Regions from separate parts of the Homo sapiens genome. Here all the other regions are linked to region 4. The links come from fine-mapping of genetic effects on gene expression. A gene starts in region 4. Each other region holds a variant in brackets. All regions are shown on one strand. Distances are from middle to middle.

Evidence for each region. PIP is the estimated chance that this variant, and not a neighbour inherited with it, causes the effect.
Region 1: its variant is fine-mapped to the expression of TNRC6A in atrial appendage (GTEx, PIP 0.91).
Region 2: its variant is fine-mapped to the expression of TNRC6A in blood mononuclear cells (TOPMed, PIP above 0.99).
Region 3: its variant is fine-mapped to the expression of TNRC6A in whole blood (INTERVAL, PIP above 0.99).

What each region holds. Positions count from the first base shown.
Region 1 is chr16:24,652,975-24,661,080 of GRCh38, reverse strand. It overlaps a transcript of TNRC6A not described here. Among named protein-coding and RNA genes, the nearest start is that of LINC01567, 14 kb to the left of the region's middle. The variant T/C (reference allele first, on the strand shown) is at 5,045.
Region 2 is chr16:24,692,757-24,700,862 of GRCh38, reverse strand. It overlaps a transcript of TNRC6A not described here. Among named protein-coding and RNA genes, the nearest start is that of LINC01567, 26 kb to the right of the region's middle. The variant G/A (reference allele first, on the strand shown) is at 3,916.
Region 3 is chr16:24,667,871-24,675,976 of GRCh38, reverse strand. It overlaps LINC01567 (long intergenic non-protein coding RNA 1567), which reads left to right and starts at 4,915. Exons shown (of 3, transcript NR_122072.1): 1 at 4,915-5,050. It also overlaps a transcript of TNRC6A not described here. The variant A/G (reference allele first, on the strand shown) is at 3,973.
Region 4 is chr16:24,724,960-24,733,065 of GRCh38, reverse strand. TNRC6A (trinucleotide repeat containing adaptor 6A) reads right to left here and starts at 3,415. Exons shown (of 25, transcript NM_014494.4): 1 at 3,220-3,415; 2 at 2,766-2,813. The coding sequence starts at 3,224. RefSeq lists a silencer at 3,077-3,386.

The sequences.
Region 1 (8,106 bases), 72 kb after region 4:
TTAAAGACATACCAGATAAAGGTTAAGAAGAAGAAAGCTGGGCAGGGCGTGGTGGCTCACGCCTGTAATCCCAGCACTTTGGGAGGCCGAGATGGGTGGATCACGAGGTCAGGAGATCGAGACCATCCTGGCTTACACGGTGAAACCCCGTCTCTACTAAAAATACAAAAAATTAGCCTGGCGTGGTGGCGGGCACCTGTAGTCCCAGCTACTCGGGAGGCTGAGGCAGGAGAATGGCGTGAACCCGGGAGGCGGAGCTTGCAGTGAGCCGAGATCGCTCCACTACACTCCAGCCTGGGCGACAGAGCGAGACTCCGTCTCAAAAAAAAAAAAAAAAAAAAGAAAAAAAAAAGAAAAAAGAAAAAGAAAGCTGAATTCATGATATTAATATCAGACAATGTTGAATCTAAGGTTAAGGGAGGCAACCTAGACAAATGGGGGCATTTTATAATGACAAAGGGCACTAAGAGTTAGGCTAAAGCTTCAATGTGAGAACACAACAGAAAATGGCATCAAACTTGCACACGCATGTTTATAGCAGCACAATTCACACTATTCACAACTGCAAAAATGTGGAATCAACCCAAATGCCCATCAATCAACGAGTGGATTAAAAATCTGATATATATATATATGAATGATGGAATACTACTCAGCCATAAAAAGGAATGAACTAATGGCATTCGCAGCAACCTGAATGGGATTGGAGACTATTAGTCGAAGTGAAGTAACTCAGGAATGGAAAACCAAACATCGTATGTTCTCACTCATAAGTGGGAGCTAAGCTATGAGGATGCAAAGGCATAAGAATGACACAAGGGACTTTGGGGACTCAGGGGGACAGGGTAGGAAGGGGGTGAGGGATAAAGGTCTACAAACTGGGTTCAGTGTATACTGCTTGGGTGATGGCTGCACCAAAATCTCACGCATCACCACTAAAGAACTTACTCATGTAACCAAACACTACCTGTTCCCCCCAAAACCTACAGAAATAAAAAGTTAAAAAAATAAAATAAAATAAAATGGCATCAAAATAATTACAGCATCAGCTTCCAACAGACACCAAGACTAACATATGACTATAGCTCACCTCTCCCAGCTTGCAGTAGATAAAAAAATTAAAAATAAAAATTTAGAGGATCTCAATGTATATTTAATAAGGCCGACTTTGTAGTTTATGTCGAATACTATGCACTAATAATAGAGGATACATCTTTTATGTGCCTATGGAATTTTCATGGTAATAGATGATGTATCAGGCCATGAAGAAAATCTTAACAAAATTCAAAATGGAGAAAGAGTAGAGACCACTTTCTAGTCACAGTACAAGAAAGATAGGGCTGGGTGTGATAGCTCATGCCTGTAATCCCAGCATTTTGGGAGGCCAAGACAGGAGGATTGCTTGAGCCCAGGAGTTTGAGACCAGCCTGGACAACATAGCAAGACCCTGTCTCTACAAATAATACAAACATTATCCTGGCATAGTGGTGCACACCTGTAGTTCCAGCTACTTGGGAGGCTGAAGGAGGAGGATTGCTTGAGCCCAGGGGACAGAGGCTGCCGTGAGCCATGTTTGTACCACTGCAGCCAGTCTGGGTAACAGAGCAAGACCAACAAAATTGGAAGGGGAAAATTCTACCACCCACCACTTGGTAAAAGGGAGCGTTTTTTGAGGGCACGAGGAGAGAGACACAGAGACAGACAGATCAAAGAAAAAATTTAAACCCAAATTTCTCAACATCTTGAATAACAAAATGAAATTAATACATAGCAAAACCTCTGTCCTATGACTAAAACTGGATTGTTAAGTAGAACAGAGCCCTAAACAAAGGCATAAGTAGAGAAGGACAAAGAAAGTAAGTGAGTTTAGTATTCACTCAAAGAAGTTAGAAAAACAACAAATTATTCTAAGAAATAAGAAGGAATAAAATAATAAATGGGCGAATTAGAAAATAAAATAATGGTGGGGTGCAATGGGTCCTACTGCAAAGTGCCTGTAATCCCAGCACTTTGGGAGACTGAGGCGGGTGGATTGCTTGAGCTCAGGAGTTCAAGACCAGCCTGGGCAACATGGCAAAACTCCAACTCTACAAAAAATACAAAAATTAGCCGGGTGTGGTAGCGCACGCCTATAGTCCCAGCTACTTGGGAGGCTGAGGTGGGAGGATCGCTTGAGTAAGGGAGGCAGAGGTTGCAGTGAGCAATGATCTGCACTGCACTCCAGCCTGAGTGACAGAGTGAGACCCTGACTCAAAACAAAAAAAAAGAAAAAGAAAAGAAAATACACAAAAAAATAGAATTAATTAATGTAAGAGCAAACTCTTTGGGGTGAGTTGGTTAGAGTAAAATAAATAATTGAAAAGTCAACTAATCAGGAAAAAAAGAGGAAGAAAGCTCAAAAACACAACATTAGAAACAGGGTGGGTGGGGCTCTGTGGCTCATACCTGTAATCCCAGCACTTTGGGAGGCCGAGGTAGATCACTTGAGGTCAGGAGTTCAAGACCAGCCTGGCCAACATGGTGAAACCCTGTCTCTACTAAAAATACAAAAATTAGCTGGTTATGGTGGCACATGCCTGTAATCCCAGCTACTTGGGAGGTAGAGGCAGGAGAATTGCTCGAATTGGGAAGGCAGAGGTTGCAGTGAGCCAAGACCGTGCCACTGCACCCCAGTCTAGGGGACAGAGTGAGTGAGACTCTGCCTCAAAAACAAACAAACAAACACAAAGAAACAGAGTGGAGGAAATATCATAACAAAGAGGAAATGAAATGGCTTTGTACCTTGCAAAACTGTGCAATGAAATTTGAAAATCTGAATGAAGTAGATTATTTTCTAGAAAAATGTAACTAATTGTCCACAGTTTTAGAACTCTGAAATAAAACAGCAAGCAGAAACAAAACTGTAAATGTTAACCAGCTTCCCACCCCAAATTCACCAGACCCACAGGAGTTTTAGATAAAGTCTTCCAAATAGCCAAGAAATAAGCAATTCTGCTTCTATATAAATTGTATCCAGGCACGGAGAAATAAAAGATGTTCATACTTTTTGTCAAAGCCACATCAAAACCTGAAAATCATGTCACAAAGAACAACTATATAACAAAACTCACTTATGAATATCTTATCTTAAATAAGATAGTACCAAAGAAAACCCAGCATATTTTAGGAATGTAGGAAATGCTGTTTTAGGAAATCTACTAGTAAGCAACATTCACCATATAACTTGGCTTAAAAAAAAAAGTGGCATAAAATTATCTCAAAAATGCAATGTTATTAGCATAGAATTGACAAAATATTCTCTTACAGCTTTCTAAGTCTCCACTGCATTTTTGGCTAAACTCCATTTTTTATTTCCATTTTTTTTTTTTTTTTGAGATGGAGCTTTGCTCTGTCGCCCAAGCTGGAGTGCAGTGGCACGATCTCAGCTCACTGCAACCTCTGCCTCCTGGGTTCAAACGATTCTCCTGCCTCAGCCTTCCAAATAGCTGGGATTACAGGTGCGTGCCATCATGGCTGGTTACTTTTTGTATTTTAATGGAAACGGGGTTTCACCATGTTGGCCAGGCTGGTCTTGAACTCCTGACCTGAAGTGATCCACCCGCCTCGGCCTCCCAAAGTGCTGGGATTACAGGCATGAGCCGCCTGCCCGGCCTTTATTTCCAAACTTTGAAATATGTGCTCTATTTTCCTTGATAAGTCTCTCTAGAGGTTTTGTTTGTTTGTTTCTTTGTTTGTTTGTTTTTTTTTTTTTTTTTTTTTTTTTGAGATAGGGTCTCACTCTGTTACCCAGGCTGTAGTGCAGTGGTGTGACCATTGCTCACTGTAGCCTTGACCTCCCAGGCTCAATCAATCCTTCTGCCTCAGTCTCCCAAGTAAGTAGCTGGGAACACAGTCATGCACCACCATGCCTGGCTAATTTTTGTATTTTTTGTAGAAGATAGCGTCTTGCTATGTCTCCCAGGCCGTTCTCCAACTTCTGGGGTCAAGTGATTCTTTTGCCTTGGCCTCCCAAAGTGCTGGGATTACAGGTGTAAGCCACCATGCCCCGCCTCTCTAGAGTTTTATTTTATTGATCTTATCAAAGACCCAGGTCATGGTTTTATTTAACATTTATTTCTATTATTTGTTTCAGTAATGTCTGCTTTTATTAGGTTTGATTCTGTCTACCTGCTACTTTGGGTCATTTTGTTCTTTTTCATACTTCTTTTATGTGAAACATTTTATTTTTAAAATTCTTTCTTAATAGAAACACTTAACATAACAATTTTGCCTCTGATTACAGGGTTGTTTACATCTTATCAGTTTTGAAAGGTAGGGTTCCTTTTGTTGTTTTGTACATAAACAGAAGCTGCCATTTTAATTTCCTCTTTCCCCCAAAATAATTTCTATAAATGATTTTTAAAAGTTCTAAATATTTTGCCCTTTTTGTTAACCTGGTGTTATTTATTTATAGTTTGTTTTTAACAGATAATTTGACTTGTGCAATTTCTGCCTTTGGAATTTTTTTAAGTTTTTATTTGGCCTGATATATTATCATTTTAAATATATGTTCTATGTATTTTTGAAAAGCATATGTACTTCTTTTTCTCTCTCTCTCTCTTTTTTTTTTTTTTTGAGATGGAGTCTCGCTCTGTTGCCCAGGCTGGAGTGCAGTGGCACGATCTTGGCTCACTGCAACCTCCGCCTCCCGGGTTCAAGCGATTCTCCTTCCTCAGCCTCCTGTGTAGCTGGGATTACAGGCATGCGCCACCATGCCCAGCTAATTTTTTTTTGTATTTTTAGTAGAGACGGGGTTTTGCCATGTTGGCCAGGCTGGTTTCGAACTCCTGACCTCAGGTGATCCACCTGCCTTGGCCTCCCAAAGTGCTGGGATTACAGGCCTGAGCCACCACGCCCGGCCTCATTTTTCTTTTCTTTTCTTTTCTTTTTTTTTTTTTTTGAGACAAGGTCTTGTTCTGTCACCCTGGCTAGAGTGCAGTGGTAGTGCATGGCTCACTGCAGCCTCCATTTCCCAGGCTCAGGTGATCCTCCTGCCTCAGCCTCC[T/C]GAGTAGCTGGGACCACAGGCACTCACCACCATGCCTGGCTAATTTTTAAAAATTTTTTGTAAAGACAAGGGTCTCCGTAGGTTGCCCAGGCTGGTCTCAAACTCCTGGCCTCAAGTGATCCTCCTGCCTTGGCCTCTCAAACTGTTGGGATTACAGGTGTGAGCCAGGGCACCAGGCCTATATTTCTTGCTATGTATCTATTATCTAACATTTATTAATTCTGTTATTTAAATCCTGTTTCTTTTGTATTTTGTTCGTTCAGACTGAGAATAGTTTGTTAATCTTTAGCTCAATTTTAGTTTTGTCAACAATTCTTATATTTCTACCGAAATACTCTTTTTTTTTTGAGACAGAATTTCACTCTTGTCGCCCAGGCTGGAGTGCAGTGGCACGATCTTGGCTCACCGCAACCTCCGCCTCCCAGGTTCAAGCAATTCTTCTACTTCAGCCTCCCGAGTAGCTGGGATTACAGACATGTGCCACCACGCCTGGCTAACTTTTGTATTTTTAGTAGAGACGGGGTTTCACCATGTTGGCCAGGATGGTCTCGAACTCCTGACCTCAGGTGATCCACACGCCTTGGCCTCCCAAAGTGCTGGGATTACAGGCATGAGCCACCATGCTTGGCCAGGAATAACTCTTAAAAGACTGTTCCCCTTATCTAAGGCCTATAATAAAAATAAATGGCGATTATAGTGAAAATACTTTAAAACCACAAAGCAGAATTTCATGTTTTTTGACAAAATCTTTTTTTCTATCAGTGTTCCCCCCCGCCTTTCAAATTTTTTTTTTGAGACAGGATCTTGTTGTGTCACCTAGACTAGAGTGCAGTGGCACGATCACTTCTCACTATAGCCTCTACCTCCTGGGCTCAGGTGTTCCTCCCATCTCAGCCTCCTGAGTAGCTGGGAACACAGGCGTCTGCCACCATGCCCAGCTAAATTTTTGTATTTTTTGTAGCGATGGGGTTCTGTCATGTTGCCCGGGCTAGTCTTGAACTCCTGGGCTCAAGTGATCCACCCACCTTGGGCTCCCAAAGTGCTGGGATTACAAGCGTGAGACACTGTGCCCAGCCTTTTCTTTACCTCATAGATGATCATAAATGTTTTTATCTTTGGGAGAAATTATACCATCTACCGTGAAATAATATTCTGTCCAGAATGTTTTTGGTTATGTGTCTGATTTTGTCCAAAATTGGTGAGTTTTAGGTTAAAATTAGTAATTTAGTAAAATTACTGAAATTTACTTTAAATTACAGGTGATTCTTTTCTGTTGTTGTGTGTTTTTTTATTTTTTATTTTTTATTAATTTTTTTTTGAGAAGAAGTCTCACTCTGTCACCCAGGCTGGAGTGCAGTGGTGCGATCTCATCTCATTGCAACCTCCGCCTCCTGGGTTTAAGTGATTCTCCTGCCTCAGCCTCTGGAGTAGCTGGTACTACAGGTGCATGCCACAGACATTAGCACCATGCTTGGCGAATTTTTGTATTTTTAAAGTATAGACGGGGTTTCACCATGTTGGTCAGACTGGTCTCGAATTCCTGATGTCAGGTGATCCGCCCGCCTTGGCTTCCCAAAGTGCTGGGATTACAGGCGTGAGTCACCGTACCTGGTCTACAGGTGATTCTTATAGGGACTATTACTAAAAATTTTCTGCAAATCATAAAGCTATATCAAGGTGTTGAGCTTAGCCATTAAGCACAGTGTAATCATTCATTGAGCCTGTCCAGTTTGATTATGCATTCTGGCATTTTGTAAGCTGCTCTGCCTAGCAATATATAGATTCATTTAATATGTTAACATTGGCTAATAAGCCAAGTGCAGTGGGTCACACCTGTAATCCCAGCATTTTAGGAGTTCAAGGCAGGAGGATTGCTTGAGGCCAGGAATTTGAGTGCACCAAATTTGAGTGCACATGGCAGCCTGGGTAACATATTGAGACCCCATCTCTGCAAAACATTAAAAAATTAGCTGGGTGTGGTGGCTATGCCTGTGGTTCCAGCTACTTGGGAGGCTGAGGTGAAAGGATCACTTGATCCTGGGAGGTGGATGCTGCAGTGGGCTATGATTGCGCCACTGCACCCCGGCCTGGGCCACAGAGAAAGTCTTGGTCTGCCCCTGCCAAAAAAAGTTAATAATTTTCTTTCTAAGATCTCAGCTCAAAGTATTATCTCTTCAGAGAGGTCTTCAATCTAAAGTACAGTCCTTTAGTCTAAAGTAATGCCTATCACGTTAACTAGGCTTCTTTTTTTTTTTTTTGATAGAGTCTCGCTCTCTCACTCTAGGCTGGAATACAGTGGTGCCATCTCTGTTCACTGCAACCTGCACATCCTGGGATCCAGTGATTCTCGTGCTTCAGCCTCCCAAGTAGCTGGGATTACAGGTGTGCGCCACCATGCCTGCCTGCCTAATTTTTGTATTTTTAGTAGAGACAGGGTTTCACCATGTTGGCCAGGCTGGTCTCGAACTCCTGACATCAGGTGATCTGCCCGCCTCAGCCTCCCAAAGTGCTGGGATTACAGGCATGAGCCACCGCGCCTGGCAGTTAATAGAAGTATTTTTTAAAATTAGTATTACTCTTCTATTTCCTTTGTATTTCTGATGTATTTTAGATCACCCCCACTTTTTTCCACTTAATGCTTTTGATTCACTTTGCATTAGGCTTGTCTCTTGGAAACAGGATGTAGCTAGATTTTAAAAATCGATTCCGAAGGGCTTTGTTTTCCACAGGGCTTGCTGTCCTTTTATTTTTGTCATCTCAGGTCTCATCATTGTCATCGTGGTTGTCTTTTCTGAGGTGAACGCTCCCTTGTTTATTTTTTCTTCCTGTCATTTGCAATGTGAATCATGCTGTCTTTGTTGGGGTTATTGTTCTATTGCTTTATAGATTTGTTCATTCCAGTTTTATTCTCAGACACACAACTTCTGCTTAGATAGTTCAGAGTTCCCATAATCCTGTCTTAGAAAAAGGCTGTGGTCTTAGGGAAGTGGAATGCAATTTCAATTTAGAAAATGGTTGGAAGCAAATGCTCCCAAGAAGCTCAAATTTCAGGGTGCTTTTAA
Region 2 (8,106 bases), 32 kb after region 4:
GCAGGGAACAAGTGGTTTGCTATAAAGAAGCAAGAGAAAAGATGTTCAACATGCTGGCTAGTGGAGAATGTCTAGAGGTGTGGGGTCAGGGATCGGCTGAAACATATAGGTAGGCTATTGCCTAAGGACAGCATCTCACTGGCTAAGACAGCCAGACAGGCACAGCGGTCAGCACTTTGAGCCTAGTTACTGAGCACAGCCAATATGGCACCTCTACCACGAAGATCCATAGGTCATTAGGGTTCAGGGGTGCAGCAAGAGAAAGAGAAGAGTGTGAGGGAACCCCCTGGAGCACCACTTACTTATTTATTTAATATTCAGACATAGGCTGGGCACGGTGGCTCATGCCTATAATCCCAAAACTTTGAGAGGTCAAGGGGGGAGGCTCATCTGAGGTTAGGAGTTCGTAAGACCAGCCTGGCCAACATGGTGAAACCTGTCTCTACTAAAAATACAAAAATTAGCCGGGCATGGTGGCATGCGTCTGTAGTCCCAGCTACTTGGGAAGCTGAGGCAGGAGAATTGCTTAAACTTGGGAAGCAGAGATTGCAGTGAGCCAAGATCGCACCACTGCACTCCAGCCTGGGCAACAGAGTGAGACTCTGTCTCAAAAAAAAAAAGAAAAATTCAGACACAGGGTCTCACTATGTTGCCCAGGCTGGTCTTGAACTCCTCCTGGCCTTTGAGTGATCCTCCCGTCTCAGTTTCCCAAAGTGCTAAAATTACAGGTGTGAGCCACCTTGACCAGCCTCTGGGGCACCTTTTGATCCCAGCTATTACCAGATACTAGAGTTACTGTGGGTCAAAAACTTTGGGCACCCAGAACCTAAAGGGTCCCTGATTCTGGAAGGGGCAGAATCAAGCATGGTGGAAGGAACATAGCCTTTGGCATCAGAGCTAGATTTAAAGCCTGTCTCTGCTACTTATTTCCTGTGTAACACTAGCACTTGGCACATTGCTGAGCTTCTTAGAACTTCGGTGTCCATATCTGTAAAATGGAAATTAATAATTCTTACCCCTCAAGTCCTCAGGGTTGACTGTTAAAGAAATGGTATCTGTGGCCCTTCAGCTCAGTGCTCTCTTGTCCATCTCTGGGCTTTTGTATTTGTTATTTTCTCAGAAGCTTTTTTTTTTTTTTTTGGTAGAGACAGGGTTCCATTCTGTTGCCTGGGCCGGAGTGCAGTGGCGCAATCATAGCTCACTGCAGCCTTGGAATCCTAACCTTAGGCGATTCTCCCACCTCAGCCTCCCAAGTATCTGAGATGACAGGTGCACGCCACCATGCCCAGCTCATTTTAAAAATTTTTTGTAGAAATGGGATCTTGCTATGTTGCCCAGGCTTGTCTGGCACTCCTGGCCTCAAGCAATTCTCCCGCCTTGGCCTCTCAAACTGCTGGCATTACAGGTGTGAGACATCGTGCCTGGTCTAAGAGCACATTTTACTCAACCCAGCTTTGCCTGAATATCTCCTAGTCATCCTTTTGGTCTCATCTGGCTCTTTTCTTCCTCCTGGAAGTCCTCCTGGGTTGATTGTCTCTCTTCTGTGCTCTGTAGTGCTGCCCACTTTCACACCATGTGAGAATTCTTTGCCTGTCTCTCTCCTCACTAAGTCTGTGGAGGCACGAATAGGACTTAGTTCATCAGTGTATCCCCAGTTCATGGCACATACACACTGGTGCTCAACAGATATGATTTGATGGAATGAAGTTTTGAAGATTAAATGAGATAATCAATGTTTAACCCATGCTTCCCAAATCACACTGACTAGGTGGGTAAAAAACAGAAACATGAAACACTTATCCATTCAATACCCGCTCTGTAGGTTCTTCAGCTCCCTTAAAATTCTCCCCAAAGGGCCAGGAGTGTTGGCACACCCCTGTAATCCCAGCACTTTAGGAGGCCAAGGTGGGCAGATCTCTGAGGTTGGGAGTTCGAGACCAGCCTGGCCAACATAGTGAAACCCCGTCTCTACTAAAAATACAAAAGTAGCCAGGTGTGATGGCACATGCCCATAATCCCAGCTACTTGGGAGGCTGAGGCAGGAGAATCGCTTGAACCCAGGAGGCAGAGGTTGCAGTGAGCTGAGATCATGCCACTGCACTCCAGCCTGGCGACAGAGCAAGACTCTGCCAAAAAAACAAACAAAAAAAACCTCCCCAAAGACCCTAGGGAAACCTCAAGGAAGGGAGCACAGGCTCTGGAAATAAATCGAGTGGGTTTCCATCTTGGCTCTGGCATTTACCAGCTCTGTGACTTACTCTATCCATGCCTCAGTTTATGCACTTGTGAAATGATTCCTAACTCTGCCAAGGAGACTAAACATGCTAATATTTGCACAGTGCTTGTAATGGTCCCTGGAACACAGTAAAGAATGTACGGGTGTTTAATATATCTCCAAGCGCACCACACACCGGTCTTCCTGGCTACTGTGCCGTGTTCCTTGTCTCTCACTCCAACTGCCTATGATCATTTCCCACTACTGCTGGTGCCTCAAATGGCATTTAATCCAATCTTGGGGGGTTCAGGCAGCCTATGTATATTGCTTGGATTGCATTCAACCACACTCTTATAATACCCAAACCACCGCTTCTTCCACATGAATGTGCTTGTGAATCCATTGAGGACCCTGTAGATTCTGATTTGGAATCTGGGGCAGGCCTGAGATTCTGCATTTTTTGTTTTCTTTTTAATTTTTTTTGTAGAGTCGGGGTCTCGCTATGTTGCCCAGGCTGGTCTCAAACTTCTGGGCTCAAGCGGTCCTCCTGCCTCGGCCCCTCAAAGTGCTGGGATTATAGGCATGAGCTACAGTGCCTGGCCTGCATTTTTTTTTTTTTTTTTTTTGAGACAGAGCCTCACTGTGTCACCAGGCTGGAGTGCAGTGGTGCAATCTCTGCCTCCCAGGTTCAAGTGATTCTCCTGCTTCAGTCTTCCGATAGCTGGGATTACAGGTGCCTGCCACCACATGCAGCTAATTTTTGTATTTTTAATAGAGACAGGGTTTCACCATGTTGGTCAGGATGGTCTCGATCTCTTGACCTTGTGATCCACCCGCCTTGGCCTCCCAAAGTGCTGGGATTACAGGCGTGAGCCACCATGCCCGGCCCCAGTCTGCATTTCTAATAAGCTCCCAGGTAATGCTGATGTTGAAGGTTTACGGACCATATTTTTACTTGTTTTTGAGACAGGGTCTCCCTCTGTTGCCCAGGCTGGAGTACAGTGGTGCAATCTTGGCTCACTGCAAACTTCACCTCCTGGGCTCAAGTGATCATTCCACCTCAGCTTCCTAAGTAGCTGGGACTACAGGTGCGTGCCACCATGCCTAGCAAAGTTTTGTATTTTTAGTAGAGACAGAGTTTCACCATGTTGGCCAGGCTGGTCTCGAACTCCTGGCCTCAAATGGTCTGCCCACCTTGACCTCCCAAAGTGCTGGGATTACAGGTGTGAGCCACTGTGCCTGGCCCACATTTGTACTTAACAAATACCTAAACAGTAAAAATTTGTTTTTCTCACCAGTCTTTGTACTGAAGTGAAGAGAGACACAAGAGACACAACGATTCAGAAGAGGATTAGACAGAAAGATATCAAAAGATACCCAGACGTAGGTAGTTTCTGTCATTGCTTCAGCAGTTTTTCCTTTTATTTTTAGTTGACATGTAATAATTGTACATATTTATAGAAGACAGTGATATTTCAATATGTGTATACAATGTGCAATGATCAAATTAGCGTAATTAGCATATTCATCACCTCAAACTTTCAGGCCTCAGTGTTGTGAACATTCAAAATCCTCCTAGCTTTCTGAAAATATGCAATAAGCTACGGTGAACCATAGTCACTCACTAACTAGTGCTGCGGAACAACAGAACTCATCTTTCCTATCTAGCTGGTGTAAGCATTTTAATGCTATCAGTTCTC[G/A]TGTCTCTGTGATATTCTTGGCCACAAAATGACTGCTTCAGCTCCGGTCATCACATCCATGACCAAGGCAAAAAGAAGGGGAATGGCTAAAGGGAAGAGCTAGTTCTGAGTGTGCCCTTCTAATATGAAAGCCCTTCTTTCCTTCCTTCCTCCCTCCCTCCCTCCCCCTCCCCTTTCCCTTCCCTTCCTTTCCTTTCCTTTCTTTTTTTTTTTTTTTTTGAGACAGGGTCTCGCTCTGTTGCCCAGGCTGTACTGCAGTGGTGCAATCGTAGCTCACTGCAGCCTTGACCTCCTAGTCTCAAGCAATCCTCCCACCTCAGCCTTCTGAGTAGCTGGAACCACAGGCGAGCCACCACGCGTGGCTAATTTTTAAAATTTTTGTAGACACAGAGTCTCACTATTTTGCCCAGTCTGGTCTCAAACTCCTGGCCTTAAGCAATCCTCCCACCTTAGCCTCCCAGTGTACTAGGATTACAGGCGTAAGCTGCTTTGCCTGGCCACCCCTCATTTCTGATCCATTGTATTTGAGCTGAACAAGCACCTTTAGCATGAATTCTTTCCAGGGAGTTCTCATACTTTCTTTTTTTTTTTTTTTTTTTTGAGATGGAGTCTGACTCTGTCGCTCAGGCTGGAGTGCAGTGGCGCGATCTGGGCTCACTGCAAGCTCCGCCTCCTGGGTCCATGCCATTCTCCTGCCTCAGCCTCCCGAGTAGCTGGGACTACAGGCGCCCGCCACCACGCCCAGCTAATTTTTTGTAGTTTTAGTAGAGACGGGGTTTCACCGTGTTAGCCAGGATGGTCTTGATCTCCTGACCTCGTGATCCACCCGCCTCGGCCTCCCAAAGTGCTGGGATTACAGGGGCGAGCCACCGCTCTCGGCCCTCATACTTTCAACCACATAAAAAGCGCAGTGGAGTTTTTTCCTCTCCACCATTAGCTGTTCCCTTCTTGAGTCAATAACATCGTAATCCTATCTTGAGGGACAGAATCTCAGCCAAATGCTGGTGGGAATCCCATTAATTCCAAGCTCAAGGGGGTTGAGTCTAGAACTGAGGTTGAGCCAATCAGTGCACTCCTTCTCCCTAGGCAACCAGTGATTGGTTCAGGGATGGTGACGGTGACGTGGCCAAATTAACCACCAGGGCTGAAAAGACTCAATCCCGTGTTTTGCTTGAAACACCCGTGAAACAGACTTGCTTTTCCATGCTGAATGTCCACAAACACGGCCACAGCTGTAAAAACTTTTGGAAGGCCAGGCGGGGTGGCTCACGCCTGTAATCCCAGCACTTTGGGAGGCCGAGGCAGGCAGATCACGAGGTCAGGAGTTCGAGACCAGCCTGATCAAAATGGCGAAACCCCGTCTCTACTAAAAACACAAAAATTAGCCGGGCGTGGTGGTGCGCGCCTGTAATCCCAGCTACTGAGGATGCTGAGGCAGGAGAATCACTTGAACCCAGGAGGCGGAGGTTGCAGTGAGCCAAGATTGCGCCACTGTACTCCAGCCTGGGTGACAGAGCGAGACTGTCTCAAAAAAACAAAACAAAAAATATATATATGTATAAAAAGTAAAAACATAAGAGCTTCTGGGCTTTTATGCACTGGGCTTCTGTGACTTGCAGCTGGAAAACATAGTTGACACAGGTAGACATCATAACTTGGGATTATTTTATGCACAGCCTTCAATCAGTATCAGATACCCTTGGAGTACAGTTTCCTTCCCACCACTGGCTCGCTGCCTGACCTCACTCCCCAGAGTTTCGTTTTCTTCAGCTAGAAGAGGAGGAAAACAGAAATGCCTTTATTATGGGGTTAAATGAGATGGTGCTCGTGAAGAACTTAGCACAGGGCCCAGTACACTCCCGTGCCAGCAAGCAATGTCACATTATCCGATGTGGGTTTTCTGAATCAAATTAAAGCTGCAGGGCCCCAACAGCCCAACAGGTCTGGAGAAAGTTTCAGCTCAGCCATCAGAGGGCAGTGGTCCAGAGATGGCTCACAGTGATTCCAAATTTGTTTTAAGAGGGTCTCGCTCTGTCACTCAGGCTGGAGTGCAGTCGTGTGATCATAGCTCACTGCAGCCTTGACCGCCTGGGCTCAAATGATCCTCCTGCCTCAGCCTCCCATGTAGCTAGGATTACAGGTGTACAGCACCACACCCAGCTAATTTTTACATTTTTGTAGAGATGGGGTCTTGCTACGTTGCCCAGGCTGGTCTTGAGCTCCTGGCCTCAAGTGATCCTCCTGACTGGGCTTCCCTTGGCTCACTAGTCTTTTTTTTTTTTTTTTTTTTTTTTGAGACAGAGTCTTGCTCTGTCACCCAGGCTGGAGTGCAGTGGCGCGATCTCGGCTCACTGCAACCCTGCCTCCAGGGTTCAAGCGATTCTCCTGCCTCAGCCTCCTGAGTAGCTGGGACTACAGGCACAAGCTGCCACACCCAGCTAATTTTTTGTACTTTTAGTAGAGACAGGGTTTCACCATGTTAGCCAGGATGGTGTCGATCTCCTGGCCTCGTGATCCACCGGCCTCGGCCTCCCAAAGTGCTGGGATTACAAGCGTGAGCCACCGCGCCCAGCAAGGCTCACTAGTCTTATACTTGGATCACTGCAGTTAGGGTCATTGTGTCCATGTGTTGGGGTTTTGGAAACAGGGGGCTTGGCTGCTATTGTGCTGAGGTCGGAGACGGGGGCCTGGCTATGCTGGGAGCCTCAGGCAAGAGACCGAGTGTCCACCATGAGGTCCTTTCCCTCTTAAGCACTGTCACTTTCCCTGGGTGTTGTAAGAGGGGAGGCGTGAGTCTTCTATTCTTGTGGGGTCTGCCAGTCTCTGGCTCATTTCTAGTCCTGGGGACTCTTCTGCTCCCCTTGGCTGTCACTGCTCTGCCCTTCCTCCCTTTGAGATACTTGTGTTTCTCCTCTTGTCCTTGGGGATGACCCCATACATGTCCCAGAATAATAATATGTTGAAAAACAAAGCCAGAAATGAGGGTTGTTTTCGGAGTTACTTCTGCTTTCTTCCATGTTAATCAACCCTCTTTTTAAACATTTTTTTTTGAGATAGGGTCCCACTCTGTCACCCATGCTGGAGTGCAGTGGCGGTCTTGGCTCACTGCAGCCGTGACATCCTGGGCTCAACTGATCTTCCCATCTCAGCCCCCTGAGTAGCTAGGACTATAGGCACATGCTACCATATCCAGATAATTTTTGTATTTTTTGTAGAGATGGGGTTTTGCCATGTTGCCCAGGCTTGTCTTGACCTCCTGGGCTCCATCAATCCTTCCATCTCAGTCTCCTGAGTAGCTAGGATGACAGGTGCATGACACCATGCCTGGATAATTTTTTATTTTATTTGTTTATGTATTTTGAGATGGAGTCTCGCTCTGTCACCCAGGCTGGAGTGCAGTGGCGCGATCTCGGCTCACTGCAACCTCTGCCTCCCGGATTCAAGCGATTCTCCTGCCTCAGCCTCCCGAGTAGCTGGGATTACAGGTGTGCAACCACCATGCTGGGCTAATTTTTGTATTTTTAGTAGAGACGGGGTTTCACCACCTTGGCCAGGCTGGTCTCGAACTCCTGACCTCAAGTGATCTGCCTGCCTCGGCCTCCAAAAGAGCTGGGATTCCAGGCGTGAGCTACTGCGTCTGGCCTAATTTTTTTTTTTTTGTAGAGACTGGATCTCACTTTGCTTACGCTGGTCTTGAACTCCTGGACTCAAGTGATCCTCCCACCTCGGCCTCCCAAAGTGCTGGAATTACAGATGTGAGCCACTGCAACCCTCTTCTCGTGAGAGAACACAAAGTTTGGTGTCCTTCTTAGAACAAGGGAGGGAAATCCGCTGGAAATAAAATGAGTCAGTATCTCACTACATCATCTTAATAGTGTGAGTGTGTTTATTATTATTTTTCATAGGATTATTCGGCTTATTAAATTATTATTTTAAGTAGACTACAGTGAGGAATATATTACCGGTTTACCCGAATGTAAATATGACTTTGGCTCAAATCGGAGACCTCTGAGATTTGTGATAAGTAGTTTAGTGCAGTGTCTAGTGCCTACAGGAACTGTGATAAATATTAGTGCCCCTGTTTTTCCTCCCTGAGTTTTCACTAAGAACAGCTCCTGGTGAGGTGTTAGATGTCTAGAATTGACTGCCTCTTGTGTAAATTTCAGAGTTACATGTATAATATGACACCAT
Region 3 (8,106 bases), 57 kb after region 4:
AAGATAAGCAGGATTGCTTGGGACAAGTGGGAAAAGAGTAGGAAGAAAAACCAAGGGTGGGACATCCTGGACTCTGTGATGATGAACTTGTGTAACCTCCAGCAGACAGAGCAGCAAAGGTCTCCAGGAATGCAAAGGAAGAGGTGGTATGAATTCCTAGACCCTATGTGGGTACTCCCATATCAAAAATGAGTCCCCATTTAGATACTGAATAGCCTCTGTGTGTGTTGTGTGCATATATATATATATATATATATATATATATATATATATAGAGAGAGAGAGAGAGAGAGAGAGAGAGAGAGAGAGAGAGAGAGTCTCTGGCTGGAGTGCAGTGGTGTGATCTCACCTCACTGCAACCTCTGCCTCCTGGGTCCAAGCAATTCTCCTGTCTCAGCCTCCCGAGTAGCTGGGATTACAGTTGTGCACCACCATGCCCAGCTAATTTTTTGTATTTATAGTAGAGATGGGTTTCACCATGTTGGTCAGGCTGGTCTTGAACTCCTGACTTCAGGTGATCCACCTGCCTCGGCCTCCCAAAGTGCTGGGATTACACATATGAACCACAGTGCCTGGCTTGGAGAGCCTCTTTTAAAGCTAAAATGCATCTGTATCCTTCGGCAGCCTGAAATCTTAGGAAATTCAGGCACGTACTATCTAAGAATCACAGCATTTCTCATGCAAAATATCTTTTTGTACTTCTCTTGCAATTCATTCCAATGTGTTCTGTCTGTCCACAACACAGCTTGTGTTTCTTTGATTATTTCCCCCCATGTTGGGATTATAAAATTACATAAAATTGGTGTTGGTTGGAGAATGTTTTTGGTTTTTTGAACAGGGTCTCGATCTGTCACTCAGGCTGGAGTGCAGCGGTGTCATCATAGCTGACTGCGACCTTGAACTCCTGGGCTCAAGCAATCCTCCCACCTCAGCCTCCTGAGTAGCTGGGACTACAGACGCATGCCACCACAACTGGCTAATTAAAAAAATTTTTGTTTTTGTAGAGACAGTGGTCTCAATACGTTGCCCAAGCTAGTCTTGAACTCCTGGGTTCAAGTGATCCTCCTGCCTTGGCCTCCCAAAGTGCTGGGATTACAGGTGTGAGCTACCACTGCCTGGTGGGTGGAGAATTTGGATGGCTTGACAGAGATGGTTACTTTGGCAGTCTTTCCATAATCTCTCTTGTGATCCCTTTAAGAAAAGTTTACGTCACATGATTGTTCAGACTTAGACAAAGATGTGTGTGTGTGTGTGTGTGTGTGTGTGTGTGTGTGTGTGTGTGGTGGGGGCAGTGTTGTAAGAGAATAAATAATATTTAAAAGAATTACTTTACAGAGTCTCAGCTTCTGTCACAATACATTGAATTTGCCTGCTTTTATGTGGAACTCCGTTGCAACGGAGAGGAAAGGATGGCCCACTTTCACCTAAAATCCAGATTCTATAACTTGCAAAGTCTCTTTCCAATTAGTTCCAGATTATTAATGCCATCCTGGCAAACTGATAACTCACTGTTTAGGGCACGCTGAATCATTTCATACTATTTTATTTTATTTATATATCTATATATAGTTTGAGACAGAATCTCGCTCTGTCACCCAGGCTGGAGTGCAGTGGCATGATCATAGCTCACCGTAGCTTTGAATTCCTGGGCTCAAGTGATCCTCTATTGAATTTAAACTTAATTTAACTGAGACCAGCCTGGGCAACACATCGAGACCTTGTTGCTACTAAAAATAAAAAAATAGCTGGCGTGGTGGCACAAGCCTGTAGTTCCAGCTACTCAGGAGGCTGAGGTGGAGGATCACTTGAGCTGAGGAGGTCAAGGCTACAGTGAGCTATGATCACACCACCGTATTCCAGCCTGGGCGACACAGCCAAACCCTGTCTCAAAAAAAGAAAAATAAAAAAGATCATAGATTAGAGACAATGGTTCCCAGCTCCCTTTCCTCTGCTGCAACTATGATGGAAATGTTTTGGATGGTATCTGATGCCAAGCTCTTCTGAGAATGTTACCTGACGTGGATGCACCAAGCTGCACGAGGGTGAGGACTTTTGTCATTGACAACTGTATCACTTCAGCTAGTGCCCATTACACGGTTCTCACGAAAATATTTCTTGAGGCCGGACATGGTGGCTTATGCCTGTAATCCCAGCATTCTGGGAGGCCGAAGTGGGTAGTTCGCTTGAGCCCAGGAGTTCAAGACCAGCCCTGGGCTGGCAAAAGTCTGTCTCTACAAAAATTAGAAAAATTAGCTGGGCACAGTGGCGTAGGCCTGTAGTCCCACCTTCTTGGGAGGCTGAGGTGGGAGGGTTACCTAAACCAGGGAGGTTGAGGCTGCAGTGAGCCGTGATTGCACCACTGCACTCCAGCCTGGGTGACAGAGTGAGACCCTGTCTCAAAAACATAAATAAATAAAATAAATTTCCTGAATGAGTTGTTGGAAGATTGTTTCACTGCTCGAGCTGGTGGGATTCTCACACCCTGCCAGAATCTACTTCCTTATCTTTGCCTGGGACATGGCCCCTTGCAAAGTGGACCTACAGGCATCCCTCGGTGAGCGAAGCCCTGTCTCTGGGAAGGCTGTGGAACACAGTTCCAGAACATAGCTTTGAAGCCCAGTGGACCAGATTTGAGTTCACTTTGAAATTTGATAGCTGTGTGACCTTCAATCTTGGTCAAGTTACTTACTTTTCTACTTACCCTCAGGACTCTCATTATCAAAGTTTGTACACACACAGAAAAGTTGAAAGAATAGTACTATCTTTTTTTATTTTTATTTTTAATTTTTAAAAAATTTTTGTAGAGAGGGAGTCTTGCTTTGTTGCCCAGGCTGGTCTCAAACTCCTGGCCTCGAGCAATTCTTCCACATCTGCCTCCTGAGTAGCTGGGACTACAGGTGTGTGCCATCACACCTGGCTAAGTTTTAAAATATTTTTTGTAGAGATGAGGGTCTCACTATGTTGTCCAGGCTGATCTTGAACTCCTGGGCTCAAGCAATCCTCCTGCCTTGGCCTCCCAAAGTGCTGGGATTACAGGTATGAGCCACTGTGCCCAGCCAGAATAGTACTATTGATGACACAATGATGAACTATCTAGGTTCAAAAATTGTTAATATTTTGCTGTATTTATATGTAAATACATGCATATGTATGTAAGTATATCTACAAGTAAGTTACAGGCATCATGACACTTCTCTAAATACTTCAGCCTGTATCATCTAAGAAGAACAGGCCAGGCACAGCGGCTCATGATGCCTGTAATCCTAGCACTTTGGGAGGTTGAAGTGGAAGGATCACTTGAGCCCAGGAGTTGGAGACCAGCTTCAGCTATATGGCAAGTCTCCTGTCTCTACAAAAAATAGCAAAAATTAGCCAGGCATGGTGGTGCATGCTTGTAGTCCCAGCTACTCAGGAGGCTGAGATGGGAAAATCGCCTGAGCCCAGGAGGTTGAGGTTGCAGTGAGCCGTGATCACACCACTGCACTCCAGCCTGGGTGACTTCGTGAGACCCTGTCTCAAAAAAAATAAACAAGTAAAAAATAAACAAAGGGCCAGGCGCGGTGGCTCACGCCTGTAATCCCAGCACTTTGGGAGGCCGAGGAGGGCGGATCACGAGGTCAGGAAATTGAGACCATCCTGGCTAACACGGTGAAACCCCATCTCTACTAAAAATACAAAGAAAAAAAAATTAGCCAGGCGTGGCGGCGTGCGCCTGTAGTCCCAGCTGCTGGGGAGGCTGAGGCAGCAGAATGGCGTGAACCCGGGAGGCGGAGCTTGCAGTGAGCCGAGATCACGCCACTGCACTCTAGCCTGGGTGACATAGCAAGACTCCGTCTCAAAAAATAAATAAATAAAATAAAATAAACAAAGAACACTTTCCTACACAAACACAACTCCCGAATCACTCTTGAAGAGAATTAAAAATGATTTCCTAACACAATCTCACATGCTGTCCATATTAAAATTTCACCA[A/G]CTGTCCCTCAAATGTCTTTTTATGACTGTTTTAATTTTTCTGGTCAGGATCCAATGTAGGATCAGAAATTGCATTTGGTTTTTGTCTCTTTACTCTTTTTTTCTAGAAAAGATTTCTACCCTTTTGTAAGTGACACTGATTTTTATTTTTTAATTTTATTAAGACAGGGTCTCACTATGTTGCCCAGGCTGGTCTTGAAGTCCTTGGCTCAAGCAATCCTCCCACCTCGGCCTCCCAAAGCGCTGGGATTACAGGCGTGAGCCACTGCACCTGGCCTGACATTGATATTTTTAAGAGCTCATCCAGGCTAGTTGTCATGGAAACATCTCACATTTTGGATTCGTGTGATTGTTTCCTCGGGGTGTTTTCTAGGCTCGATTTCCCCATCTGTGAAATGGGCGCAGTGACAGTAGCCACCACATGGGTACCACATTCTACTCCCCAGGCAGTGCGAGAACTGCAGGGCATAGTGCCTGCACAGCGCCTAGTGCAGTGTCTGGCACATCACGGATGCTGAATAAATGAGCCATTGCCATCACCATCATTCCAACCAGCATCCTCCACCTCATCACCACCAGCATCTTCAGCACCCCAGAGTCCAAGCCGCGTCAATGCGCAAACTTGTCTCATTCTTTCCTCACCCTTCTGGAATGTCTTATGCCCCTCCTGCTCAGTTCCCTCTCTCCTGGAGACCTTAAGCGATGAAACTTAAGCCGTATGAATCTCTTAGCCCCTCCAGCAACTGGAGTTTAGCCTCACCCATCTTCCTAAGGACAACCTCTCTTTTTTTTAGAATCACAATTTTCTGACCCCAAATGGTTTAGACACAGTGAGGCATTAACGGTGTCATGTCCACCCAGGGAGCAGGCGGGTGCTTCGTCATTGCTGGTGCTGGTGGTGGGTGACCTTGGCGCGGAGGCTGTCGGTGCGGCAGCTGCTGCAGTGCTGTCGGAGGGTTGCTGGGGAAAGGAGATTGGCTGGCGAGGAAGATGAGGAATGTGCTGCCAGGAGACTGGGATCACGGCCAGATGCTAATTACGATGGCCTGGGGGTGCTGGTACCCCCTGTCAGCATCATGTAAGGAAGTGTGGGGGCTGGCGGGAGTGGGGGAGGTGAGAGAAACGGGCAAGGTGAGAGGGACTGACAGGTTGGAGAGATCCACTTGTTCCCCAAGGGTCCACCCTCCCTTCAGACCCAAGCTGTCTGGGAGAAATTGTGGCTGTCACCATAGCAACAGCAGCAGCTGATGCGTGATGCACAGTGTCTGTTAGAGAAGCTCGGTCAAGCTTGTACCAGTATTTTTCCATCCGAATCTCATTTCTTCAGTGAAATGAGAGAGATCGGAGGCTGGGCAGGGCACAGGTGGGGCCAAGCAGGTATTTGGAGAGGGAGTACAGACAGGAGAGTTCTCAGATAGTCTACTGAATTTGAAAAGAATACAGATTGAAGAGAAGCAGATTTTTACATTACTAAGACATCATTTAAATATCCAGACTGCTTCCAAATTCCCTTAAATTATACATGAATTGCTGAAACAGCAGCCCCGTAGCCTCCAGAAAGGTGCAACGCATTGCATCTGGGAGACCCTTGCGGGAAGGGTTGTTTCTGCAGTCCTGAAGGGCACCAACCTGGGAGTGAGACTGACCTTAGACTCCCAGCTCTGCCACTTCCCAGCTAAGTGGCTTTGGGCAAACTATTTTCCCACATTAAGCCTCAATGTCCTCATCTGTAAAATGGAGATAATAAGAACAGCTGGCTGGGTGTGGTGGCTCACGCCTGTAATCCCAGCACTTTGGGAGGCCGAGGTGGGTGGATTGCTTGAGCTCAGGAGTTCAAGACCAGCCTGGGCAACACGGTGAAACCCCGTCCCTTCTTAAAATACAAAAATTAGCTGGGCATGGTGGCATGCACCTGTAGTCTCAGCTACTAGGGAGGCTAAGGCATGGGAATTGCTTGAGCCTGGGAGGTAGAGGTTGCAGTGAGCCAAGATCACGCCATTGCACTCCAGCCTGGGTGACAGAGTGAGACTCTGTCTAAAAAAAAAAAAAAAAAAAAAAAAAAAGTAGCTGCCTCATAGGGTCATAACGAGAACAAAATGAGTGGATGCATATAGCATTAAGCCTAATACTTGGCTCATATAATGAACCCAGTAAATGGTTGCTATTATTACTATAACAACTACTTCTATTACTGTTGGTGCTACTATTACTATTACTACTCTTACTACTAAAACAAGTACTGTTATTCCTCCTCCTGCCAGCACCATGGGGATTACACAATTCAGCTGAGGACAGGATGATGAATCACTGGCGACTCAGTCCTCTCCCACGAATGGTACTGGAGTGCTTGAATTTGCCAGCACTTTTGTAAGGAGCTGGGAGCAAAGGCTGAGAAGACACAGTCACTGCCCAGACACAGTCACTGCCCTCATAGACTGTGAATCTAGTGTCCAACAAAGGCATGACTCAACAAACAACCAGGGAATCCTATGGGAGCTATAGGATTTTTTTTTTTTTGAGACAGAGTCTTGCTTGTTGCCCAGGCTGGAGTGCAGTGTTGCAATCTGAGCTCACTGCAGCCTCTGCCTCCTGGGCTCAAGTGATCCTCCCACCTCAGCCTCCTGAGTAGCTGGGACTACAGGGGCACGCTGCCACACTCAGCTAATATTTAAATTTTTTGTAGAGACTATGTTGCTCAGGCTGGTCTCGAATTCCTGGGCTGAAGCAGTCCACCCAACTCAGTCTCCCAAACTGCTGGGATTATAAGTGTGAATGCCCCGCCAGGATTTTTATTAGAAGAGATTGTACAGATGATCTATTTCAGGATTTTCCCAAACTCATCCCTCAAGTTTCCCCTCTCTATTTTAGTCCTGAGTACCACTCACATTGTTATTTATTTAAGGCTTTATTTCTCTTTAAATTGATCCCCCTTTCATTGGTCAAATAAATGTGGTTTGAAGAAATCTGGATCGCACTGTGGAAAATGTGAAATTAGCATCACTTGCCATGAAAAAAAAAACCCATAAAAATAAAAACAACGAGACTAATTGTGTCGTCGCATTCCAGCTAATACCCTTTTCCTGTTGAACTTTCAGAGACTCAGGCTCACTCTGTTCAAAGGGAGGTTGGCAAGGCTCAGAGAGGTGTTAAAGGCACACTAGCACAAAATGAAACTTTTTCCTTTTTAATCAGAAGTGCTGCAAAGCAACCAAAGGAAGAATGACTTTCTCACTGAGTAATTCAATGACATCAAATGTTCCATGTTCTTTCCCATCTAAGGTCATGGCTGGCCTTAATTAAGGGTGAATAATTACCTCTTCTCAGAGGGGGCGGGAAAGGCAGGGTAAGAAGTAGGCCCTAGAGCAGACTGCATCTCTGCTGAGTCTAATTGTTCCGGTGGCCAATGCCAGGTGGAAAGCATGGCCTTGGTGATAAAAATGGAGGCAAGCGTGATGCCAGTTTCAGACTGCTTAAGTAGTTCAGAGGCACTGAAGCCCAGTGGGGGAAGTCGGGTAGAGCCGAGGGACTGGCCCAGATCATGAAGGCTTTGTAAATTGCACTTATTCACTGAGTAAAGTGCAAGCGCTGAAATATACATATACATATATATATGTAATTTATTTTTCTTTTCTTTTCTTTTTTTCTTTTTCTTTTTTTTTTGAGATGGAGTTTTGCTTTTGTTGCCCAGACTGGAGTGCAATGGCATGATCTTGGCTTGGCACAATCTTGGCTCACCGCAACCTCCACCTCCTGGGTTCAATCAATTCTCCTGCCTCAGCCTCTCAAGTAGCTGGGATTACAGGCATGCGCCACCACGCCTGGCTAATTTTTGTACTTTTAGTAGAGAGGGGGTTTCACCATGTTGGTCAGGCTGGTCTTGAACTCCCGACCTCAGGTGATACTCCAGCCTCAGCCTCCCAAAATGCTGGGATTACAGGCGTGAGCCACCATACCCAGCCTATATATATGTAATGTTTTAAGACACAGGGTCTTGCTCTGTTGCCATGACTGGAGTGCAGTGGTGCAATCCTAGCTCCCTGCAGCCTCAAAATTCTGGGCCCAAGAGATTCTGCTGCCTCAGCCTTCTGAGTACCTGGGACTATGGGCATGTGCCATCACGCCCAGCTAACTCAA
Region 4 (8,106 bases):
TTTGTATTTTTAGTAAAAATGAGGTTTCACTATGTTGGCCAGGCTGGTCTCGAACTCCTGACCTCAAGCAATCCACCTGCCTTGGCCTCCCAAAGTGCTGGGATTATAGGTGTGAGCCACAGCACTCGACCAAAAGATGTTTAAATTAACTCAACATCTAAAAGTTTGGAGGCTTTCACGTTACAATTCCTAATGAAGATCTAGAGCAGTGGTTCTCAGCCAGGGTCGATTCTGCGCCACTCCCAGGGACATCTAGCAATATCTGGAAGCATTGGTGATTGTCACAACTGGACGGGGAGTGCTACTGCGGATGCTGAACATCCTGTGATGCACAGAACAACCCTCAAAATAATAAATTATCTGGTCCAAAATGTCAAGTGCCCAGATGAAAAAACTGATCTAGAAGTATTGCATGCATCTGTGGGTCCCGCCTACCAAAAGAAATTTTCAAATTTTGCAAGTTCGAAGCCTAAAAAGTTACTCCAATTACCAGTGATATGGTCTCCTCCAAGTTACTTAACCTCTTTATACATCAAATTCTCCATCTGTAAAACGGAGATAACAATACTACCTACCTCACAGGGTTTTTCAAGGATCAGATGAGTCCATGTAAAATCTTAGGAAAAGTGTGCCAGGCACATAGTAAGCAATCAATAAATTTAACTACTTACATTCTTCCCTGGCTTAGTGCCCAGTCCCACAGTTGAAATATCGAAAATGCTCAAAAAATGGTTACTCAATGAATACAATGCCTTGATTTCCTGGAGAGAGCACTATGGGTAAAGACAGATACATTCTTTTTTGTGAAAAAGGAAACACAGCTAGAGATGGAGATGAAGGAAGCATCTGCCCACCTAATCACCTCTCTCCTTCCTCAGAACACTTTTAACCTGCAAGAAATGCTCCCCTCTCATTGGATCCTTAGTACACACTGCCTTACAATCTCTTTGATATTTGTTTTTCCTTTCATGCCTTCTGACCGACTGAATATTCTCAAGCACATGAATGGGATGGTATCTTTTGATTCCTACGTCATCTACCTAGTACTACTGTTATTTATGCATTTATGATAGTCTTTCTACTAGACTGTACATGCCCTCTGTGAACACGGACAGCACTTTACTCCTTTTATGTAACCCAAAGGGCCTAACAGACCTCAGCAACTGGCTGGCCCACGCCGCTCGTTTTATAGATTGGACAGAGAGGCTAAGTGACTTGCCAAGAGTCAAGGTCATATTGCAAGTAGCAGAGCTGGAATTCAAACTCTGATAAATAGCCAACCCAGACTCGAGTTCTACCTAATATTAAAATTATACCTGTGGCACAGACAATTTTTAATTAAGTACTAGAGCACCTTCATAGGAATTATACTGATATAGTTACCTGATAAAACAAAAATGGAAGGAGAAACAGACCTCTAAGCTCTGTTCTGCTGATATTACACCTTAATGGCTCAACCTGTTTTCTTTAATGGTTTCATATCTTAACATTTCCTTACTAGATTTTGACAAAATTTATGTAAATATACCACAAATAGTCAGTGATGTCAGACTTAATTTCCTTTAAATGATCCCATAATTATTTTGAGTAACAGAGAATCCCTTACTGGGTAAACCAATGATGCCTATCCTTCACCATCTGAACACATTCTTTAACGATCACCTGAACAGATTAGTATCTTATGAAACTCAATAGGCCAGCAATTTGGAACAATTCTACGCGGTGCAAAATATTCAGACGATTTGAAATGTGAGTGTTAAAAACCCCAATGTAAACCTAAAACCCGCAATCATCAAGAGCAAACTACATTAAAACCTGAGATAGGAGAAATTTCATTTTATTTTCAACAAGTGAAAAAAAAGAAAAAAAGAAAGCTATTCACGGATTTGGTTAATTGGCTAAGTTTCCCTGAGTGTCCCAATATGATGCAAAAGAAAAAGGGGAATAAGAAAGGAAAAGACGGTAGGAAAGAAAATGAATGTGAAAAGGAGTTAAATACAGTACAATTCCTTGATGCTTAAGCAATTACAGCTCAATGAAGCTAAATATTTCCATTCCATAAAGACATCGTTTAAAAAAAAAAAAAAATTCTCCCTTCACGGTGATGCAAAAGCAGCAGGGCCCAACAGGAACGATAACCTCTTCTGGAGAAAAGATTTTTAATTATTTTACCAGCTGATAAAAAGAGCACACACCGAACATGGACAGAAATGGAGTTTCGAAGGAAAACAAAACGCAGCTTATGCTTGGTAAAGTTCAAGGACAAAACTGTGTCCAATGCAACAGAATCCGCCTGACTACAATGTATGGGGGGGGGGGGGGGGCGGGGGGGAATGCGAACACATAGTATCTTTTTATAAAAGCAACAATTTGAGCTACAAAGTAATAACGGGGAAGCCAAAACAGTTTGACAGCCCGCCATAAGGGCCGCCTCAATCATGAGTCACACAATGCCTGCAACCATTTACAATAGTAATTAATGCACAAGTCCCCTAATTAAATTCTAAAAGGGTGAGAATGCTTTAACTAAGTTTACAAGAATTGCTTTGCGCTTTTTTTTTTTTTTTTTAAAGAAAGAAACACACGCGTAATTACGCATCTCCCCGCAATCCCTCCAGTATTCCCCCAGGCCGCTTCTCCCGAATGTCTGCTCTCCGGGTGCGGAAGAAAATGTCACGGGGGAACTTCTCAACCCAGAAAAGGCGAATCGGAGTAGAAATATACGATTATCGTGGGGCGGGAGACGGAAAGCTCGCCCATCTTACCTGCTAAGATTTCTTTCTACGTCTTTGGTAGCTTTAGCTTCCAATTCTCTGAAACAAAAAAACAAAAACAAAAACAAAACAAAAACACACACACAAAAACGAGATGCGCGTGAAAACGGAGCTGCTGCGGCAGAGGCTCGCGCCGGGGCCGGATGGGGGAGGGGAGAGGACGGGGGGAGGGGGACTCACAAAGCTGCGGGGCTGCAGCCCGGACTGCGGTCCCGCGGCGCGGGCGAGGCGCAACCCCGGCCTGGCCCCCGCGGCGCGGCGCAGCGAGGCTCCCCCGGGCCGCCCGCTCGGCCTCCGCAGCAACGCAGCCTGCGCCCTCCCGCCGAGGCCCGAAGTCTCGGGGACGCCCGGCGCCGCCGCCTCTGCTGCCGCCGCCGCGGGTTGCGGGCCCTGCGGCAGCGCCCGCGGCTCCTCCCGCCCGGAGGGAGGCCCTTGTTCCGCTCACCTCATGTGTGTAAAGTGCACGAGCAAGTGGGGCGCGGCGAAGGAGGCTCGCGAGCCTCAAGCCCTCCGCAGCGCCGCGGGGAGAGGCCCGAGCCGCTGCACCAGCGCCATTTTCTACACCGACCCGCTGCCGCCGCCGCCGCCGCCGCCGCCGCCGCCGCCGACACCGCCGCCGCCGCAGGCCCCAGACCGGAAGTGAATGCCCCACTCGGCAACCCCTTCCGGGGGCGCCACGGCCACTGGCCCCCAAGATGGAGGCCCTAGCAACTGGACCCGCAGATTGGGCAGGTCCTTGGCAACCGCCCCGGCGTGTCACGCTGCACCCAGCCGGACCTCCCTGGAGGTCACAGCCTCCGAGGCGCCCCGCGGAGTGGCTGGGGGGGCCTGCGGAGTCCCGAGTCCAACCTTTTTCGGTGCGGCCGGCTCCGGTCTGACCGAGGAGGGGAGTCCCTCCCCTCCTCCTCCTTCTTTGCTGCGACACAAGTTTCCTACCCGCCGCCCGGCCCCTCCCCCACTGACACACGCCAAAAAAAAAAAAAAAAAAAATTGCCTAAAACGCAAATTTTACCCCAACTGCAGCCTGATGAGCCCGCGCGGCTTTTGAATTCAGCCACTTCTAATTATTTTTGACCTTGGGCCAGTTATTTAACCTCTCTGCTTCTCTGTTCCTCCTCAGGTAAAGAATGCATACCTGAGGCGGGTTGTGAGGCTTAAAAGCGATTTTTATCCACCGACCTTTGACTCAGCAGTTCCGCCTGCACGGATTTTCTGCTCAGGAAATAATTCTGGGTATCTGCAAATATTTCACCTTCGAGATACTAAGCTGTGGTATTGATGATGGTGAAAAATTGCAAACAGCCAAAATGTCCAGCGCTACTAGATGGCTTCAAAAACAGCTACTGGCATGTATTAGGACACTGTAAAAATGATGTGGAGGAATAATCCCGGCATGGAGGAAATGGTTGCAATAGAATAAATGAAAAAGCAGGTTCCAACGTAGCTCACACAGTAAGAAACATCTTAGTGTAGACACAGTAAGATACATACATGTAGATAGACTAAGATATGTATATATGTAGACACAGATGCATATGTGTACATTAAAAGTATACATACATACCTACATGTAGATACAATAAGACATACATATCTGCAGGTAGATACAACAATACACATACATGTAGATACAGTAAGATACATATTTTCACTTGCGTGTGTTCTTTCCAACCTCTCATCAAGCTTTTTCTTCTAATTTAAAGATAATTCCTCCTCTGTGCTTAAAATCTATAACCTTTACTTTCTCAGAAACCCCACTCTGTGGATCATCCCATTCTCCTTTTTCTAACCTAAGTTCTTCAACTGGCTTTTTTTTTTATTTTTTTATTATATTATCATTTTTTTTAGGCGGAGTCTCGCTCTGTCTCCCAGGCTGGAGTGCAGTGGCGCGATCTCCGTTCACCGCAACCTCCGCCTCCCGAGTTCAAGCAATTCTCCTGCCTTAGCCTCCCAAGTAGCTGGGATTACAGACACGCACCACTGCGCCTAGCTATTTTTGTATTTTTAGTAATGACGGGGTTTCGTCATGTTGGCCAGGCTGGTCTTGAACTCCTGACCTCAGGTGATCGCCCCCCTCGGCCTCCCAAGGTGTTGGGATTACAGGCGTGAGCCACCGCGCCCAGCTTCAACTGGCTTTACAACATGCTTGAATCTCTCCCGTTAAAAACAAACAAAACTTCCCTAGACATGTTGGGTTCCTGTCCTCTCCGATAGGTTAAGCTAGTGAATGAATGCACAGAAAGTCATGAAACATATGCACCAAAACGTTAACTGATTATGACTTTTTTTCATTTTCTTCTTTTAGTGTATCTGTTTTTTTCTTTTTTGCGATGAGCATATAAAAAACACTTTTTTGAAAAAAAAAATCAGGTTTACAAAATATAAAATGTAGTGGGCACCGAATAAATGCTAGTGACTTTCCTTTTCCTGCTATCATCCCTGAGGTTCATTTACCTACACACATATTTGTTTTTCTTTCATAATCCTTTCTACTTAAAATGTTTAAAAGTTACTATGGTGTTTCATTAGGAGTTTAAAAATATGAACATATACGTAATGGCACAATATGCTTTCATACCAGGTTTAGGAATAATTTTTCACAACAACATAAGGCAATGAAAACAGTCATATTTATCAACATTTGCACAGCTGTTAAGATTGGCTGATTTTTTTTTTATTAGACTTTTTTAGGTTTTAATGACTCAGTGATTCTTAATTGGGACAATGTTGCCCCCATCCCTACCCCTGGGGACATTTAGCAATGAACTTTTTGGTTGTCACACTGGATGCTACTGATTGGTATCTGATAGCTACAGACCAGGGATTCTACTAAATATTCTACGATGCGTAGGACAGTCCCCTACAACACGGGAGTATCTGAACCAAAATGCCAATAGCACCAAGGTTGAGAAAGCCTGGAACTAATTCCCAGCTCCAGCAAAGCTAATAAGATATGATTTCTTGGCCAGGCGCGGTGGCTCATGCCTGTAATCCCAGCACTTTGGGAGGCCGAAGTGGGCAGATCATCTGAGGTCAGGAGTTTGAGACCAGCCTGGCCAGCATGAGGAAACCCGGCCTGTAGTAAAAATAAAAAATTAGCCAGGCATAGTGGTGCATGCCTGTAATCCCAGCTAATTGGGAGGCTGAGGCAGGAGAATCGCTTGAACCCAGGAGGCAGAGGTTGCAGTGAGCTGAGATCACACCATTGCACTCCAGCCTGGGCAACAACAGTGAAACTCCACCTTAGGGAAAAAAAAAAAAAAAAAGATGTGATTTCCAGAAGGTTTGTTGACAGTGATTGGACATCCCATCTGAGCCCTCCTGGGCTGCAATGTAGAGTGTTTTATATGAGGTCATGCTAGTCACTTTTAAATTATCTCTTACTTAAACTTGGTGCATACATCGAAGAAAAATGACAATATAAGATCAGCACTGATTCCTTATGTGGGACCCTCTAAGGGATCTTTTCCTGTTACTATCTTTTCTTTTTACTAAGTAATCATTCTCTCTACTGAATATTTCCCATCACCACACAAACTCTAGTAACTTTCATTAAAAAGCAAAAAGCCCAAAACTCCCTTGATGCGTCATTCCTCTCCAGCTCCATTTTTCTGCTCTCGTTCCCAACAATGCTTTCTTGGGAAACTGTTCAACACAAGCACCTTCCACTGGCTCTCCTCCTTCTCCCAGCTCTCTTTAACCTGATATCCCCATCCCTCCTGCAAAACTGCTCTTATGAAGGTCGCAAATGACTTTGAGGGTGCCAAACTCAATGGAAACATGTCTGTCCTCATCTTGATTTACTTCTTAGCTACATTTGCCACAACCTAACTCTCCCTCCTTCTTAAGAGAATCTCTTTGCTAGGCCATCCTGACAGTATATTCTTCTGGAGTTCTTTTTACCTCTCTAGCCATTTTTTTTTTTTTTTGGTATCTTTTGCTAACATCTTCTGTTTTATATCAAATAAATGTTGGAGATCTCCCCACTCCCAAGGCTTTGTTCCAGACTTCTGTTCTTCCCCCTTCTCTACTCTCCCTTTAGGATGGGTAATCTCATTTATTCTCTTGTATTTAAGTACTCTCTGAATGCAGATTACTCTCAGATTTAAACCTTAACCGTTGTCTCACCTGTGTACCCCTGAATGCCAAAATGACAATTCACTCACACAGTATTTATTGAGCACCTACTATGTGCCAGGCACTGTGCTAGGACTGGCTTCTCTGGTTCTTGTGAGGAACTACAGTGGTGGATGAAGTCTAGCAAGGCAGACAGATTTGTTTTTTTTTTTTTTTAGACATAGTCTTGCTCCGTCACCCAGGCTGGAGTGCAGTGGCATGATCTCAGCTCACTGCAACCTCTGCCTCCCGGGTTCAAGCGATTCCCTTGCTTCAGCCTCTCCAGCAGCTAGGATTACAGACGTGTGCCACTACACCTGGCTAATTTTTGTATTTTTAGTAGAGACAGGGTTTCACCATGTTGGCCAGGCTGGTCTCGAACTCCTGACTCAAGTGATCACCCGCCTCGGCCTACCAAAGTGCTGGGGTTAGGCATGAGCCACCGTGCCTGGCCGATTTTTTTTTTTTCTTAAGCAAACAAAAAGTGTATAATTACAAACTATGGCAAGTGCACAGAAGGATAGGAATGTTGCTCTAAGAAAGTGTAAAACAAAGGAACACAACATTGATTATGCAACAAAGAATGTTTCTTTGAAAATGTAAAGCTTCACCTGAGAATGGAGAGAGGAGCTGGGGAGGGGGAGAGGAGGGGGTCTCAGGCTGGAGGGTTACATTTATGGTTACATTTGTGGGTTATCAGTGCGGAGGGAAACAGGCTTCATATTGTATTTGGCTTTAAATCTGCCAGACCGAGGCAAATGGATTGCTGGAGCTCAGGAGTTCGAGACTAGCCTGGGCAACATGGCAAAACCCCATCTCTACTAAAAATACAAAAGTTAGCCAGGTGTGGTGGTGTGCATCTGTAATCCCAGCTACTCAGGAGGCTGAGGTGGGAGGATCGCTTGAGGCTGGGGCAGGGGGTAGGTTGCAGTAAGCCAAGATAATGCTACTGCACTCCAGTCTGGGTGACAGAGTGAGACCTTTTCTCAATAAATAAATAAATGAAACTGCTAGTGTTGTCATTTTCATTTTACTTGCATCAATCCATTAGGAATGGAACCAGAAACAAGGTCCTGTAAAGAGAAACACGCTGTACAAATTTAATTTTAAATAAGCCCTTTTTCTCCATTTGTCTTTGTTCCTGTGGCTTTTGAAGTTATCAGGACAAAGATGTTCTCTAACTTCTCCTCCTTCTCTTACTGAGAAGGGCAAATGA